Linked DNA regions of Homo sapiens: region 1 is linked to region 2. A link means that fine-mapping ties the variant in region 2 to the expression of a gene that starts in the linked region. Tissue or cell type: nasal epithelium. Region 2 holds a variant in brackets; the other region holds the start of a gene. All regions are shown on one strand. Distances are from middle to middle.

Region 1 (2,744 bases), 34 kb after region 2:
TGAAACTGCCTAAGTACAGGGTTCTTCACTCCAGTCTCACACTGTGGCCAAAAAATTCCTTCTAACATGCAAAATATGATCTTATCACTCCCCGGCTTACAGTCCCTCACCAGCCACCGAACTGTCTCTCGATAAAGTTCACATGCAGGGACCATGGCATTGTGATCTAGAGACACTGTCTGATGACCTCACCTCTTGAGCTCTAGCTACCCGATTGACACTACAGCCATAAATTAGTATCTCCTCTCTCTCTACATACTCTCCTAGCCTTTGCACCAAGGCTATTCCCTCTCCTCGGAATGTTGCTTTCTTTCTCCTACCAAACTTTTATTCGTCTTTAAAGCCTGACTCCTTTCAACTGTCACTTCTGGTGTGATGCTCTGCTTGATCCCAAAGCACTCCTTTGCACACAGACTGCCCTGTGTTGCATTCATTCATTCATTCTATAAGTGACGGAGCAACTACAATGAGCTGGAACGAGACCAGGGGCCATGAGCTGCGGGGCCAGGCGTGGACAGGCCTGAAAGGGTCCTCACGCTCACAGAGGGTCCAGGAAATGACAATACAGCCGGAGCGGGACTACAATGCGACAAGTGAAGGATGTGACAGCCTCGCATTGCAACTACCATACCAATAACAACCCACTTCCGAGTACAGCGCCCGGCACACAGCAGCATGACGTCATTTATTCCTCTGCCAAATATTAGGCGCCCACCACGTACCTGGCGCCGTGCTGAGCACCTGGGGCTCCGCGATGACTAAGACACTCGGCTCCGTCTACAGGGAGTTTACATAGGAGGCCCGGTGAAAATGTGACGCAGCCAGAGGATCTCAACCAGAGGGAAGAAAAAAGGAGAGATTTCACCCCCCAGCGGTCCTCTGGCAATGTCTGGACACATTTTTGGTTAGCTCGACTAGGACGAGAGGTGGTACTGTTATCTAACGGGCAGAACCAGTGACGCTGTTAAACATCCTGCCACAACGGGAGAGCCTCCCCCTCACCGCCACACCACAAACAAAACAAGGCATTATCCCGCCCAAAATGTCAACAGTGCCCAAGTGGCGCAGGGAGGGATGGAGGGAAGCCAACAGCCCCATCCCGCAGCGGAGTGCGCACCTCCCACAGAAGCAGCAGCAGCGCAGCGCACAGCCCGTTGGTAGGCTGCTCCCGGCCCCCATCCCGCCCCAAGTGCGCCCTCGGAGCCGGCGACCCGGCCACGGCCCCGAAACTCGGGGCCCGGGACGACCAGTACCTGCATCAGCATCCGCAAACAGCACCAACGCCACCGCAAAGAGCTTCCAGAAGCTTGTCCCGCAGCGAGTGCGCGCGCAAGCCTGCGGGAACCACTGCGCCTGCGCAGAGGCGCTGAACCGGACTCCCCGAACGCGCTCGTGCAGCTTTCCGAAAGTCCGCGCTTTCCATAGGCTCCCACCTGCCTGTTGCGCATGGTCACTGGGAAGCGGCTAGTGGGCTCGGCTGCAGAATTATTGCTGCGCCAGAGGCTCAGAGGCCTAGAATCGTATGAGGTTTGCAGATCCAGGAGGCTCCATCTGTTTAGTAACCTCAGACCTTCCCTACCCGCTCCCATCACTTCCATTCCCTGAAATCTAAGGTGGAAAAATCCACCGCAGAAGCATATTACCGATGCATTTAATGCAAGCCATAATTAATGCCACAACTTGAGTTAAACACATATTAATCTTATGACTTCCACACCTGCCCCCATGGTCCAGTCCACCCTCATGGCTCACCTGGATTATTGCAATAGCTTCTTGATTATACCTTACTTCTCTTGGCTATTCTCCACAGCCAGACGGACGTTTTAAAAACGTCAAATTATGACCCTCCTTTGCTTAAAACCCTGCAATGGTTTCCCATTTCACTCAGAGTTAAAACCCAAGTCTTTATAGTGGCCTACAAGGCCTGATGGAATCTAGCCCCTGTAACCTCCCGCACCTCTTCCCCACTTTCCTGCTCCAATCTTGATAGACCCCTTCCTCTTCTTGTAACCTGCCAGGTACTTCCGGCTGACCTGCTCCTTCCCTAAGTGGCCATACGGCCCGCTCTCTCATCCCTTCAGGTCTTCTCAATGAAGCTCTCCCACCATTCCACTTAAATAGGAATCCCACCTTACTCTTGTTTCCTCTTCTAACATGCCCTATAGGTTTGTTAATTTTTTTTTTTACTACTTGTCCGCCTTCTCCAGTAGAATACTAATTTCAGAAGAGTAAGTATTTTTATTTCATTTGTTCTAGGTTGTGTGTTTAGGTCCTGGAACAGGACTTGGCCCATGGCAGGCACTCAATAGATATTTGTTGAGCTTATGAATGAGTATTTGCATGGATTATTGGGGGCATTGCAAAAAGGGCCAAAGAACTCCAGAAAAATTGTTTGGAGGGTTCTAATAACTGGATGATCCCTGAAGGGGTGGAGTTAGGAGAGAAAGACTAGATTCATTCTAGACTGAAGGAGCAAGGTGATTCAAGGCCCTGAGACTTCAAAAGGGCAGAGCAAGCTCAACTAAATGAACCACTCCTCTCAAAAGGAGTGGGCTTATCACAGGCAGCAAGTCAAGCTGAAGAGACAGGGCTGAGAATGGCCGGGCGCGGTGGCTCATGCTTGTAATCCCAGCACTTTGGGAGGCTGAGGCGGGTGGATCACCTGAGGTCGGGAGTTTGAGACCAGCCTGACCCACGCGGAGAAACCCTGTCTCTACTAAAAATACAAAAAATTAGCCAGGTGT
Region 2 (2,500 bases):
TCCTGCCTCAGCCCCCTGAGTAGCTGGGATTACAGGCATGAGCCACCATGCCTGGCTAGTGTTTTGTATTTTTAGTAGAGATAGGGTTTCACCATGTTGGTCAGGCTGGTCTCGAACTCCTGACCTTGTGATCCGGCCACCTCGGCCTCCCAAAGTGCTGGGATTACACGCGTGAACCACCGTGCGTGGTGCCTTTTTTTTTTTTTTTTTTTTTTTGAGATGGTGTCTCTGTCTCCCAGGCTGACGTGCAGTAGCATGATCTCTGCTCACTGCAACCTCCGCCTCCCGGGTTCAAGCAATTCTCCTGCCTCAGCCTCCCAAGTAGCTGAGATTACAGGCGCCTGCCACCATGCCCGGCTGATCTTTTTTTTTTTTTTTTGAGATGGAGTCTCGCTCTGTCACCCAGGCTGGAGTGCAGTGGCCTGATCTCGGCTCAGTGCAACCTCCGCCTCCAGGGTTCACGCGATTCTCCTGCCTCAGCCTCCCGAGTAGCTGGGACTACAGGCGCCCACCACCACGCCTGGCTAATTTTTTGTATTTTTAGTAGAGACGCCCTGTGTTGGCCAGGATGGTCTCGATCTCCTGACCTCGTGATCCACCCGCCTTGGCCTCACAAAGTGCTGGGATTACAGGCGTGAGCCACCATGCCCAGCCTGATTTTTGTATTTTTAGTAGTGATGGGTATTGCCATGTTGGCCAGGCTGGTCTCGACCTCCTGACCTCAGGTGATCCACCCACCTAGGCCTCCCAAAGTGCTGGGATGAGGCACTTTGGGAGGCATAAGCCACCATGCCCGGCCAGAAGATTCAGTATCAGTCAGAAAGATGTCAATTCTATTGATCAATTCTGCCATCATAGAGATAAGGGGTTAAATAAATTGTAGTACAATGAAACAATGGGGAGAAGAGTGTCTGTACAAAAACTCTGGAAAGATGTAATACACTTCTAATATGGTTTGTCTTCAAGGAAGATAACTAAGGAATGCCTGAAGGACAGGGATAAGAGAAAAAAAAGTCACTGCCCGTGTCCTCTTTTCTTACCAAACTATTCAATCCTAAAGACATTAGAAGGAGCCAAGCAAGGTGACTGTCTGCTGGGGTTTGGGGTGGGAGAACCTCTATGGCCCACAGCAGAGCAAAGAGGTCATGCACCGAGGCTGGCTGCCTGGCACAGGGAGTCAAAGCCCAGAGCTGTGTGTGTGTGTGCTGTATGTGTGTGTGTGTTATATATGTATGTTGTATATGTGTGTGTGTGAGTGTGTGTGTGTGGACACTGGTGAGCAGGAAGAAGGAGGGGTTGGGCAGTGTGTTGTGGCCTGATGAGGGGAGTTGGAGCCCAAGCAAAATGAACATGGCTTGAGTCATAGCAGGGTTTCCCAGATGGTGTATCAGAGCCCAACAACAGTGAAGTCATCCGTGTGGGTAGGGCAGGGGCAGCAGGGCCTG[A/T]TTGAGGGTGTCAGAGTCCAAGTAGGGTGAGAAGGGCATTGGAATCGCAGGGCTGCCTGGTGTGAGGAGTCAAAGTCCACACAGTATGGAGGGCATCGTGCCTGGGGGCAGCTTGGCATGGAGTTTAAGGGCCCAAAGTAAGGAAGGTGTGCACGTGAAGGGGTGGCCTGGTGTGAAGTATGTGATCCCTAGCAGAGGTAGGAGGGTATCACGTGCGAGTGAGTGACCTGGTATGGGCGGTTGGATCCCAAGGAGGCTGAGGAGGTGCTGATGCATGGATAGCTTGGCAGGGAGGTCAGAGCCTGAGGGGAGCTTCTACCTGGCAGCATGGCCCAGCATGAGCAGACAGAGCTTTGGGAAGGAAAGACTAACCACATGGGGAGGCAAGAGTAGGGGCCAGGAGCTGCAGGATGTCAGAGCTTGAGAGGAATGGAGGAGCATCTGCAGGAGAGGGGGTAGTGGTGGTGATAGAAGATGGTTACATACAGAAGGTTTGATCAAACAAGTAAATTAAAGATAAGGGAAGCCAGAGTTTCTCACTGTCAGAGAAGGGAGTTACAAACATGGGAAGAACCTTGTGGTGTTAGATTGGAATTGGAGGTATTGGTATGAACTCATGAATTTCAATGTGTATGAGACAAAAAAATAGGTATGTGTGTATATATCATATGTACATAGACACACATATAAATGAGTGTGTGTGCACATATATATATAACTCTGCCCACTAAGAGGGCCTGAAAGTAGTGACACTCCAATAGCAATGAACTTATCTAAATTCCAGATTGTGGATTTTATATATTATTCTCTACTAAAAGGAACCAGAAATGGTTTGTTCTGGGGCTGGGGTAGGGAAGATACAAGATGAGCTTGCAACATTTTCAGTTTTCTTTTTTTAAGAGGATTCTTGCTATGTTGTCCAGGCTGACTTCAAACTCCCAGGCTAAAGAGATCCTCTTACCTCAACCTCCCAACTAGCTGAGACAACAGGCATGTGCCACCATGCCCAGCCTGGAGCATCTTATACCATAAATCAAAGAAGTGCTCAAAGAATA

Evidence for each region. PIP is the estimated chance that this variant, and not a neighbour inherited with it, causes the effect.
Region 1: it holds the start of ZNF483, and the variant in region 2 is fine-mapped to the expression of ZNF483 in nasal epithelium (TOPMed, PIP 0.99).

Annotation. Positions count from the first base shown.
Region 1 is chr9:111,523,772-111,526,515 of GRCh38, reverse strand. It overlaps ZNF483 (zinc finger protein 483), which reads right to left and starts at 1,337. Exons shown (of 6, transcript NM_133464.5): 1 at 1,254-1,337. RefSeq lists enhancers at 174-673, 785-984 and a silencer at 1,085-1,434.
Region 2 is chr9:111,558,353-111,560,852 of GRCh38, reverse strand. It overlaps a transcript of ZNF483 not described here and a transcript of PTGR1 not described here. Among named protein-coding and RNA genes, the nearest start is that of ZNF483, 34 kb to the right of the region's middle. The variant A/T (reference allele first, on the strand shown) is at 1,446.